Linked DNA regions of Homo sapiens. The protein of the gene in region 3 purifies or fractionates together with the protein of the main gene of each other region. This does not show direct contact. Each region holds a gene or a part of one and is shown on either strand. Other genes may lie near its edges.

Region 1 (4,364 bases), on a different chromosome or scaffold from region 3:
GAGGCTTGTGGGGATTGCACAATGAGGCCACAGCAGCCAGCCGTGAAGGCAGCCACCGGCCAGGGCCCCTCAGCCCGTATCCTCATCGCCCCTGTGTGGATGAACTCCATCTGCGCGGTGCCGGTGGAAGGACCCTCCCAGCCCCGGGACACCGCGGCTCTGTGGACTCATCTGAAAAATGTCATCCCTGGAGTCCTAGGAGAGAAGGGGTGGGGTTGGCAGCCTTAACGCCCCATCCTGCATCCTGGCGGCCTCCCGCATCCGCTCCCCCACAGGTTCCCCAGAGACAGGATGATGGATGGCAATCCGAGTGCAAACCTGGCGCTTGGCCAGCACTCTGGAAGAGGAAGTTCTCAGTTCCCAGGGCACCTGAACCCACAGCCGCCCCCACTCCGCTGGCCCCCCTGGTCCTGGAAGACCTGTTACTAGGCTGCAGAAGGGGTGGCGGAGTGATCAGGGGGCGGGGAAAGAGGCCAAACAAAAGAGGGGAGGAGCAGAGGCCCCAGTGAGGCAGGAGGGAAGCCCCTGCCCAGCGGGAAATTCCTAAATGTCTGGGTCCTTTCCAGAGGGCAGGAATTCCTAGCCTAGAGTGTGAAATAAGGAAGGAAGTGAATCTCCAGTGGGTTCCCTTCACAGCCCCTTTCCATCCTCCCCACATGCCCCACCCCCACATCTCCCAAAACAAACCCTGAGAGACGGTGTGGATGGGGAGACAGGCCTGGAAACGGAGGCCTGCGCTGAATGGGCAAAGCCGGGTTGATGATCCAGACGAGGCCCTGGAGTCTGGGCCTTGGGCCCCTCCCCTTCTGCCTGCTCCGGCAGCCTGTGGGTCCAGCCCCAGCCCCAGAGGGGGAAAGGCTCCAGTGGGAGTCCCATAGGCCTGGCTAGGAACCCCACTCCGCTACTTAAAGTGGTGTGAGCCGGGTCAGCCACTTCACCTTTCCGCATTTACGCATTTCAAGCAAGGCTTGACGACCGGAGGGGCTCAAGGCCCTGTGCACAGCCGCGCGGCCAGCACTCTGGCCAGCCTTGTAGCCCCCTTCCCCTTAGGGGGCCTCCTTCAGGAAGCCCCCGTCCCCTGCCTCCTTGTGGCCACGGTGACACCGGAACACTTCAGAGGGGCGGCTGGGGAGTTGGGGTGGGACGGGCTCTCCCGCAGCTGGAGCCGGTGTGTGACGCGGGAACGCGGCCAAGCGCGCCCCATCCAGGCGGCCTATCAGGAGCCGTCGTCGGACAATGGCTCCGCGCCTGACAACCCCGTCGTCCCCGTGCCGTCCCCCGAACTCCACATACCATGCGACGCGCGGCCAGCCCCCCGCCCCTGCCCGGCTGCTGGGAGGAAGTGACAGCGCCCCGCATCCCCCGCTGGGCAGGCCGGGCGCGCCCAGCCCCTGGGACGCAGGGACACAGCCGGGCCGCGCTGGGCCTTGGCCTCCGCCCGCGGGTTTTCCGCGGTTGCGGCGGGGCGGGGAAGGAGGGGCGGGCGGGGCGGGGCTGACTCTGCGACTATTTCAGGCCTTGCGGAACCCGGGCCAGGACAGTGGCGGCCAGGCCGGGACACGGTAAGTGACCTCCGCTTCCACACGTCCATTCCCCGCCGCTCCGCGCGGCTTCTCGCCCGCCCCTACCCCGAGGCCAGGCCGGATTCCCCGAGGAAAGAGCCTGTCGCCGCGGCGGGGACAGGAGGGGGCTGGACGCTTCCAGGGAAACTGAGGCCCTGGCGCGCCCAGCGTCCGCGCGTCCGGGCGCAGAGGGGCCAAGGCTGGCTGAGGGCCCGGGCCTGCCAGAGGCAGGGAGGGCGGGGCTGGGGCAGGCGCAGGGGTCTCCCCTCCATTACAGCAGAAAGGCCCCAGGTCCGGCGTGACTCCCCGGCCGGGCGACACAGGCCGAGTCACTTCCTCGCCCGTGCCCGGGTGTCCTCATCGGGGGATGGGTGCGCCTTCCACATCCTGCCCAGGACTGAAGGAGCCGGGCCCAGCGAGCTCCCGGGAGGTGTGTGGACATCAGCCCTGACGGGGAAGGCGAGCCAGGTCAGTGGACCTGAGGAGAGGCCGGGCAGCAGGAGGCTGGGGGGCGCTGTTGAGCCACTGGCTGTGACCCCTCTACGAGCCTCCCAGCAGGCCCCTTCCTGCCTCAGTGGGCCCAACCAGCGGCAAGGCTCAAAGGAACGCCCCTCCTCCCCTTCTTCCTTTCTGGCTGCACCGGCTCGCTGCTGCCTGCAGGACAGACTCAGGACACAGGAGACTCACCCCCACTGAGGCCCAGCTAGGCGCCCAGCACTTGGCTGTGCGGTTTGGCCACATCCCCTCAGCAGCACTGTGGGGTGGGGGTCCTCATCCCCTTTTCAAAGACGGGGAAACGGCGGCTTGTGAAGGAAGGAGGTGTGCAGTCCACACACTAGTGAGAAGTGTGCTGAGCCCACACCGAAAGCGTTTCTCTTTCCATGGCACCAGCTGCCTCGGAGAGCGGAGACCTGGGGCGAGGCCCAGGGGGCTGCAGCAGGACCTTCAGGCGCTCTGGGTTTCGTGTCACAGAGGGGAGAAGGCGGTGATGCTGTGGGGGTCCTGCGGGAGCTGTGCCTGGAGGTGGGACAGAGCCTAGTACATGTGGGGTGGGACAGGGAAGGCTGAGGTGAGGCTGGCAGGGAGCATTGCTGGTAAGGGCCACCCTCCCCCACCCCAGGAGAATGGCAGAGGTGGGGCCTGGGCACCCAGGGTGGGGCTGAGTGGCCCTGCCAGACAGACCAGCTCCCGCGGGTGCTAGGCATGCACCTGAGAGGGGCTGGGAAGCGAAGTTGGGGCACCGGGTGGGGAGCAGAGGTGCCCCATGGCCTTGCCCCTGGGGCTCCCTGGAGCATGCCCCTCTTGGTCCTGGAGTGGAATGCTCAACCCAAATGGCACTAGGGAGGCCAGTGCCATCCAGGAGTGTGGGACTCTGCCCAGGGCACTGGGTGAGCATGGCAGGGGCTGGGGGTGGGAGGAGCCCAGGCTTCCTGTCCCTCAGGTGGCTCTGGCCAAGCCCCTCCAGGATGGGGACAGGGTAGTGGGGCTGGTGGAGGCAGCGGGGCCATGGGAAGAGTCGGATGGGCCCAGTCTGAGCCTCCATGGCTGCTGTGCTTGGGGCAAACACCTCCTACTCAGCCTCAGTTTCTCCTTCTGGATGGTGGATCATCCTGCCTGCCTTGCAGGGCTGTTTCAGGGGTCACTTGAAGTTACCATGATACATGAGACAAGGCTGCATGCATTTAGTCTTGGGGTGGGGCAGACAGGTGGCATCAAGGTTACAGGTCACCCCAGTTCTTGGGGAGGCCCAGCCCCTGCCTGCTTCCCCCTTTCAGATCAGCCATGCTCTTCTCCAGTGGACCTGGCCTTGCTCTGACAATGGTCAGGTGCTGGGCAGGGACTCTGGGGAAGCTCGGGTCTTGCCTCTCTGGATGTAGCTTGCAGGATAGCTGGGGATGTGGAGGCAGGGGAAAGCTGGGCTCTGGGACCGGGTGGCCTGAGTTCCAAGCCCAAGCTATTGACTATAGGGACAGTTTAAGCCGAAATAACACCCTTCCAGATGAGAGAAAGGAAGAGATGGGATGGGCACCCAGGAAGGCTGCAGAAACTGGAAGCCTTTGTGATGATGCTACGATCCCATTTGGGAGGGGGTGGGAGCCAGGAAGCCTGGGTTCTGGACCCGAGTTGCTGTGTGACTTCAGGCCGCCCTGTGACTTGCTGAGCCCCTTGCCCCAGTGATGTGTGAAAGGCTGTCTGAGGTCCCACCCACTGTGGCTTCTGTAGATCCTGGTCAGGCTCTGCCCCTTTCATGGCCCAGCTGGAGCAGCTGTGTTTCTGTGACCCCACCGCTGGATCAGAACTGGACAAGATGGCAGAGGGGCTGGGTCTGGGCAGGAGGAGGCTGGGTTCCAGTCTCAGGCCGGTTCTGGTGTTCTAGACCCCGGCATGTCCCAGACCTTTCTGGACCTCTGTTCCTGCTCTGTCCAAAGGGACAGAGCCCATGCCCCGCCTCTTCCCTAGGGTCCCGTGGGATCCAGGGAGGTGTCCATTGCCTGCTTCCTGCCCAGAGGGTGGGCTGGCAGGGAAGGATTTGCCCAAGTAAAGTGAAAGTCCCCCTCTGTGTGGCGGGCTTGGCGTCCCCAGCCTCTTCCTTGCTTCTGGGGCTGTGAAGTATTGGAAGGGGAGCTGTAGATGGTGAGATGCTCGTGGCCAGGGAGGAAGCACAGTTGTTGGTGCTCATCTGGGCCAGGAGATGAGCAGAGCCCCGGTGGCTGAATGGGTGAAACAGACTGAGTGTACTCAATGCAGCCAGCATAGCTGTGTGTCCAGCCTGGGAGCCAGGGCCGGTCCATGGTGACCACT
Region 2 (4,376 bases), on a different chromosome or scaffold from region 3:
TGAAAACAGGGACGCTAACACTTGCTCCAAAAAAAAATTCTAAGAATGTTAAGAGGGCAGTATTTGTCAAATGGAATGGATTTCACTGGGCAGTGCAGCAAAATGCTTAAGTTCTGCCGTGTTTTTTGTTTTGCGTTGTTTTTTAGAGACACAGTCGCGCTCTGTTGCCCAGGCTGGAGTGCAATGGCTGTTCGCAGGCGCGATCATAGCGCGCTGCAGCCTGGAACTCCTGCTCAAGCGATCCTCCTTGAACTTAGCCGGCCTCAGCTTCCCAAGAACCTGGGACTACAGGCGTGACACCTCGCTGGTTTACTCATTTTTCTGTTGAGGTATTATTGTGTGTTTCCTACTTTTACTATGCTATTTATACTCAACATAGTAGGTGCTGAATAAATACTAGTTAGTATCCTGGCTGGTCCAATACTCAGTAAAAACTGATCTCAGAATACGAAGCTGCTTGAGACCAGGCCCTTGCCCCAGTGTTCAGAGATCCACAGGTTGCTGTGGAGGCCAATCTGCCCAACCTGGAGTTCCAGAAAGGTCTGGGGATGTGTGTTGAGTGAGTCACAGACAGCCAAACTAAGAAAGGAGGAGGTGGTAGGGTGGGGAGGCCTTGCTGGAGAAGGAACAGGTGAGTGAATGCACAGATCTCTGAATCAGCAAACTGAATGAGTGAACCGCAAGCCGATATCGGAGTTGTCATACTTGTTGGGCTAGTCATGTAACCTCCAGGACCTCCATTTCCTTATCTGTAAAAAGAAATAAATAGTCTACTTATTTGCGATTATGTGAAGATTCAATAAGGTAATATTTGTAAGTATTCGCACTTGTACTTGGCATATCAACTGGCACAAAGTAAGCGTTCAATGTTAGCCACCGTCACCATTATGCGTTCATATATTTTATTTTTATTTTTTTGAGACGGAATCTCGCTCTGTCGCCCAGGGTAGACAGAATACAGTGGCGCAATCTCAGCTAACTGTAACCTCCTGGGTTCAAGCGATTCTCCTGCCTCAGCCTCCTGAGTAGCTGGGATCACAGGCGCGCTCCACCACGCCTGGCTAATTTTTTCGTATTTTTAGTAGAGACGGGGTTTCACCATGTTGGTCAGGCTGGTCTCGAACTCCTGACCTGATGATCCGCCCGCATCGGCCTCCCAAAATGCTGTGATTACAGGTGTGAACCACCGCGCCCGGCCTACGCTTTCATAATTTAATAATACCTTATAATAATTATGAACTGTGTCATTCCACGAATAATTTATTCCCTGGTCGTTGACTGCGAACGAGGTTGACAAGGATTCATAAACAGCCATTTCAGTCCCAAAGAGCTTTTAGACAAGGAAGCCAGGACCGGCTTCACAATCCGAGACAAGCGGCAGCGTGACGTCCCCACGTCCGCTCCCAGGGTCACGTGACCCGCAGCCCCGCCCGGACTGAGTGGGTCCCCAGCGGCTGCGACAGCAGCGTCTGCGCCTGCGCGGAGGCAAGCGCGCTCTGCGGCGCGGTCCGCTGTGGAGGCGGCGCGAACGGTCAGGGGGCGGCCGATGGCTTTGAGGGGCCCTGCGGGCTTGGGGCCCGGCTCTCGAAGGCCGTTGGACGAAGCGGTGGCAGGGGCCGAGGGCCGCGAGGCGCCGGCCCTTGTGGCGGCGGGAGGCGCGCCAGAGGACGATGAAGAGGACGATGGCCGTGGCCGGGGCCTGCTGCGCTGGGACAGCTTCTCCGCCTGGCTGCACTGCGTGTGTGTGGTGGGCTTCGACCTGGAGCTGGGCCAGGCCGTGGAGGTGAGGCCCGGCCCCGCCCTTTCTCGGCGCTCCTCCCCTGCGCCGGGGCGGCTGCAGCAAAGCCAGCGGCCCGCGGGCTGACCGGCCAGGACCCTGTCCGCGGCGCATCCGGGCGTGGCCAGTCTCCCCTCCCGCGCTCTTTCGGGCTGCGGTCCTACGGCACTTCCCGTGGGAGGATCTTGGGCTGCGGCTAGGGGTGAAAAGTTCTCTCTAGGCCCCTCCTAAATACTTGTTGATGTTCATCCTGTTCTTTCTTTATTTCTTTTAAACGCAGAGTCACAGAATTAACTAAAAGGGTTAGTAGCACCCACCCGGAGAAGCCCGCAGGCAGGATGTTTGTTTGGTACTTTTTCAAGAACAATGCCCATAACAGATGATGAACTCTAGTAGCCGAACTTGCACAACCAAGTTTTAAGGCTCAGATTGTTTTAGTCATTTGCAGTAACTGTTTGAGCGTTTCCCTCAGCCTGAGTCGAAATGCTTATCTCAGCACGCATTTTCTCCCTTTCCTCCTTTTGTGCCTCATTTCTGTTTTTTTTTTTTTTTTTTTTTGAGACGGAGTTTTTGCTCTTGTTGCTCAGGCTGGAGTGCAATGGCGCGATCTTGGCTCACCGCAACCTCTGCCTCCCGGATTCAGGCAATTCTCCTGCCTCAGCCTCCCGAGTAGCTGGGGTTACAGGCATGCGACCATGCCCGGCTAATTTTGTATTTTTAATAGAGACGGGGTTTCTCCATTTTGGTAAGGCTGGTCTCGAACTCCCGACTCAGGTGGTCTGCCCGCCTAGGCCTTCCAAAGTGGTGGGATTACATGCGTGAGCCACCGTGCCCGGCCTCATTTCTGTTATTTTTTTTTATGTTGCCTCTGGAACAGTTGGTGTGAAACTACTGTCAAGATGAATATAGGGAACATCATTTGCTTGTCAATCAGTCAACTTTTCCATTCTTATGTATGGCCCCTTACCGAAAGGCTTTAGAAACATCTATTCTTGACGTTGTTGAAGGTCTTTTTAGCATAAGGAATTGCTTGCTTTCATGTGTCCAAGGAAATTGTTATCAGAAGGGCGTTTGTTTAGACGTTTTGGTTTTGGTTTTTTTTTTTTTTTTTTTTTTTTGGTATTGGTGACAGATTTCGATTTCATTAATACTGTAGTGGCCTGGTTGACTAAGAAAATTGGCTAGGGGTAGTTTTCTTAATGCGAAGCTACTGCTTTCGTATTCGGCCTGCCTTCTGGATGTTTTATTATAACACAGTTCAGCGACATTAAGTTTCCACTAAGAACCAGGCATTATGTTAGTTGTGGAGCATACAAATAGGATGTGCTCTAATCTGTATTTGTAGATTGAGGCAATAATTTAGAGGAGAACCAAGAATTAATCATAGTAGCTGATAAGGCCAAATGCAGTGCCTGGCACCTAGTGGCATTCTATAAATACTTTTGATAGAATAGGTGAATATGTGAGCAATTCTTTATCTTATTAAAGTAAGAAAAACAGTTCCCAAAGATTTTGAGTAAGAGATTTATAAGCCATTTATTATTCACCTTGCCATGTTAACCTGAAGTTATATGTACAGCAAGATACAATTTAACCAGAAAGCATAAGAATGGGTTGTTGTAGTTGATTGTGTTTTTAAATAGCTAAAGGAGATTCTTTTGGATTCTCATTATTTGGGACATTCTTTATAACGTGAATATGTTTTTTGACCAAATAAACAGAAAATATATTTGAGATGCTGCAAAAATGTGAATTATTAAAGGACTTATTTTGAATTTCATTTTCCATAGTGTATGCCACTGTATAGAGTTTTTTCTAGGTCAGGAGTTCTTAACCTTTTGCTTCCTGGATCTTTTAAAAATATGAACATTGTGAATTTTCCACTAGGAAAAGGCTGAGTAAGATGAAATCATGTATGTGGTTCCATATATGTGGTTTCCAGCTATTTAAGACATAAACCTAGTAGGGCTTCAGAAAATGGCTAGAGTTCAGAACCAGGGAAACCTCTTGGTTTTGCTCTTTTTTTGTGTGCAGATCTTGTTTATATTTCATGTTCCCTGCAAACTGCCTTCTTCCCCTTCTCTGATTTTTTTTTTTTTTTTTAAAGACAGAGTCTAACTTTGTCAGCCAGGCTGGAGTGCAGTGGTGTAATTTCGGCTCACTGCAACCTCCACCTCCCAGGTTCAAGTGATTCTCCTGCCTCAGCCTGCCAAGTAGCTGGGACTACAGGTGCATGTCACCATGCCCAGCTAATTTTTGTTTTTTGAGAGAGAGAGTCTTGCTCTGTTGCCCAGGCTGGAGTGCAGTGGGGCAATCTCGTCTCCCTGCAAGCTCCGCCTCCCTGCAAGCTCCGCCTCCCAGGTTCACGCCATTCTCCTGCCTCAGCCTCCCAAGTTGCTGGGACTACAGGCACCCGCACCACGCCCGGCTAATTTTTTGTATTTTTAATAGAGACGGGGTTTCACCGTGTTAGCCAGGATGGTCTCGATCTCCTGACAGTGTGATCTGCCCACCTCAGCCTCCCAAAGTGCTGGGATTACAGGCATGAGCCACCGCGCCTGGCCTGCCCAGCTAATTTTGTTTTTTTTGTTTTTTTGTT
Region 3 (3,611 bases):
AGAGCGAGACCCTGCCTCTAAAAAAAAAAACAACAACAACAAAAAACCTTGCTGCTGATTGAATATGCCTGACCTTGGTCACTTTTCTCAAGTGTCTTGCAGTCAAGGAAGTTCCGTCTGTTAATGACAGGGAAGTGAAGCAATCATTAAGAGATGTTAGTTACAGACTCCCTGTACCTCACAGGAACTGACTCATGTATTTTCATATGAAACCATGGAGTTTTAGGGAGAGCCAGAAACTCAGAAACCTGTTTCCTTACCAGGAAAAATGTCATCATCTCATCTGGGTTTTTATTACAATAAGCCACAAAGCATGATGTTCTCTCTTGGTTTTTATGAATTCCTTGTAAGCATTTTTTTCTGTGCAGCCTCATAGACTCAGAATTGGTATTGAATATAACTTTGGTCCTTTTAACCTTTGAATTAGGTGAAGTAGTATTTGAAGCTTTTCATCAGTTGGCTCATTCTTTACTCAAGAATAAACCTCAAGAAACGTCATCAGGGTCAGAGTAAGTGCTCATATTGGAAAGAGAAATTCTCTGTAAGTTGAATTCCTTGCAAGTACTTAGAATTTTGAGGTAAACGTGCCCACTTCCAGCTCCAATCTGCATTCTTTAGCTGCTCAAATTCTCATAATTTCAGGACTACCCTAAAGCATATTATCTCCACCTCTTATGCCTTTCCCTCCATAAGTTGAAAATGGATCATGTTCCCAAAAGCAAGCAGTGAGCAGCTTACTTCCCGATCCTGATGAGCCTGTTAGAGGAAAACCCAGAACTCAGAATGAGGTGTCCAGCTGCCTGGCCTTGCTACTTACTCACCAAATCTGCCCTCCTTGTCTTCCCACCCTGTCTTCTGGTTCAAGGCTGTACAATATTCATTGTTCTAATTCTGACTAATCAGAATCTTCCAGTAGTGGGACTTTTTTTTTTCTAGCTTCCCTGAATTTATTTTAGATATAGAAATGTAAATAGTTATGAAAAAAGGAGAGGGGGGGCTGAAATACTTTGTTTTTTCATTTTTATAGAGATAGGGTCTCTTTATATTGCCCAGGCTGGTCCTGAACTCCTGGCCTCAAATGATCCTTCCATCTCAGCCTCCCAAAGTACTGGGATTATAGGAATGAGCCACTGGAGCCAGCCTGAAGTTTTTAAATAAGTTGTTGGGGTTTGCTTGTTTGTTTTTGAGATGGGGTCTCACTCTGTCACCCAGGCTGGAGTGCAGGGGCTCAGTCTTGGCTTGTAGTGCAATCTCAGCTTACTTTAGCCTCCCGGGCTCATACGATCCTCCCACCTCAGCCTCCCAAGTAGCTAGGACTACAGGCACATGCCATCAGCCCTGTCCAATTTTTGTATTTTTTTACAAAATGAATGTTTTGTTAAAAACATGTTACCGAGGTGGGTCTCAAACTCCAGAGCTTAAGTGACCTGCCTGTCCCAGCCTCCCAAAGTGCTGGGATTACAGGCATGAGCCACTGCACGTGGCCTTAAATAAATTTTTGTTGGTATTTTTGGGTTTTTTTTGTTTTTTTTGAGATGGAGTCTCACTCTGTCACCCAGGCTAGAGTGCAGTGGCGCAATCTCGGCTCACTGCCAGCTCCGCCTCCCGGGTTCACGCCATTCTCCTGCCTCAGCCTCCCGATTAGCTGGGACAGGCGCCCACCACCATGCCCGGCTAATTTTTTTTTGTGTATTTTTAGTAGAGACGGGGTTTCACCTTGTTAGCCAGGATGGTCTTGATCTCCTGACTTTGTCATCTGCCTGTCTTGGCTTCCCAAAGTGCTGGGATTACAGGCATGAGCCACCGCGCCCAGCCGGCCTTAAATAATTTTTTTTAAAAAGGAAACACCTAATATCCATCAGCAAAATAGATAGTACATTGGGATATCTTCATACAGCAGGCTGAATTGCAGCACTGAGAATATATGAACCAGAGCCATGTGTAACAACATGGATGAATCTTATGAATGTTATGGGCAAATAAAGCAAATTGCAGAACTTACCTATAAACTTTTTAAACTTGCAAAGCAGGCGGGGTGCGGTGGCTCATGCCTGTAATCCCAGCACTTTGGGAGGCTGAGGCAGGTGGATCATCTGAGGTCAGGAGCTCGAGACCAGCCTGACCAACATGGTGAAACCCCATCTCTACTAAAAATACGAAATTAGCCAGGCGTGATGGTGCGCACCTGTAATCCCAGCTAATTGGGAGGCTGAGTCAGGATAATCACTTGAACCTGGGAGGCGGAGGTTGCAGTGAGCCGAGATTGCGCCATTGCACTCCAGCCTGGGCAACAAAAGCGAAACTCTGTCTCAAAAATAATAATAATAATAATAATAATAATAATTAAATAAATAAATAAAACTTGCAAAGCAATACTATAAATGTTATGTGTAAAGATATGCACAATAAACAATAAATTCAGCATAGTGATTCCTTCTAGGAGAGGAAGGGAAATGTTATTTGGAAGGGGTACAGTGGGGGTTTCTACTGGATACATAATTTATTCTTTAAGGTCTGTTGTAACTGTATGGCTATTATATTGGTCTCAGTATCTTTTCTTTGTTTTTTTTTTTTTTTTGGAGACAGAGTCACTGTTGCCCAGGCTGGAATACAGTGGCGTGATCTTGGCACACTGCAACCTTCACCTCCTGGGTTCAGGTGATTCTCGTGCCTCAGCCTCCAAATAGCTGGGATTACAGGTGGTTGCCACCACACCTGGCTAATTTTTGTATTTTTAGTAGAGACTGGGTTTCACCATGTTGCCCAGGCTGGTCTTGAACTCCTTACCTCAAGTGATCCACCTGCCTCGGCCTCCCAAACTGCTGGGATTACAGGCATGAGCCACTGTACCTGGCCTCTATATCTTTTTGTATCTGAAATATTTTGTAATAAGAATTTAAAGATACTGGGAATTATGCTTTTGAAAAATACAATTAGCTTTACAGAATATACCTACGTCCGTTCTCTCTTGGCCACATCTTCTGAAATTAAAACTGATGTTTGAGACTAAAAACCCAGAGGGGCCTTGAGATCTTCAGTCATCAGAAAGATTTTTTTTTTTTCTTTTTTTTGAGACAGAGTCTCGCTCTGTCACCCAGGCTGGAGTGCAGTGGCCGGATCTCAGCTTACTGCAAGCTCCGCCTCCCGGGTTCATACCATTCTCCTGCCTCAGCCTTCTGAGTAGCTGGGACGATAGGCACTCACCACAACGCCCAGCTAATTTTTTGTATTTTTAGTAGAGACGGGGTTTCACCGTGTTAGCCAGGATGGTCTCAATCTCCTGACCTCGTGATCCACCCACCTCAGCCTCCCAAAGTGCTGGGATAACAGGCATGAGCCACTGCACCCGGCCAGTCATCAGAAAGATTTTTAATTATACTTATTGGACAAGAAAGTAGACCAACGATTTTGAGAAATATTTCCAAAAAGGTTGTGACAGACTAAAAGAGAGGTTGCAACCTGACAACCTCTGGGTGGAACTGAGCCTACAGACTCATTTTGTTTGGCCTGTACAGTCGTCACTTTTTTTTTTTTTTTTTTTTTTCTTTTTGGAGACGGAGTTTCACTCTGTTGCCCAGGCTGGAGTGCAATGGTGCAATCTTGGCTCACTG

Evidence for each region.
Region 1: the proteins of LYRM1 (region 3) and TNFAIP2 fractionate together in Homo sapiens (co-fractionation; one large-scale study listed by BioGRID). This does not show direct contact.
Region 2: the proteins of LYRM1 (region 3) and DENND6A fractionate together in Homo sapiens (co-fractionation; one large-scale study listed by BioGRID). This does not show direct contact.

The regions. Positions count from the first base shown.
Region 1 is NC_000014.9:103,121,922-103,126,285, forward strand, and holds the start of TNFAIP2 (tumor necrosis factor alpha-induced protein 2), read left to right. Parts: upstream 1-1,539; 5' UTR 1,540-2,030; intron 2,031-2,453; exon of another isoform or gene 2,454-2,585; intron 2,586-4,364. UniProt on the Homo sapiens protein: May play a role as a mediator of inflammation and angiogenesis.
Region 2 is NC_000003.12:57,690,189-57,694,564, reverse strand, and holds the start of DENND6A (protein DENND6A), read left to right. Parts: upstream 1-1,487; 5' UTR 1,488-1,546; coding exon 1,547-1,783; intron 1,784-4,376.
Region 3 is NC_000016.10:20,910,756-20,914,366, forward strand, and holds part of LYRM1 (LYR motif-containing protein 1), read left to right. Parts: intron 1-427; exon of another isoform or gene 428-509; intron 510-3,611. UniProt on the Homo sapiens protein: May promote cell proliferation and inhibition of apoptosis of preadipocytes.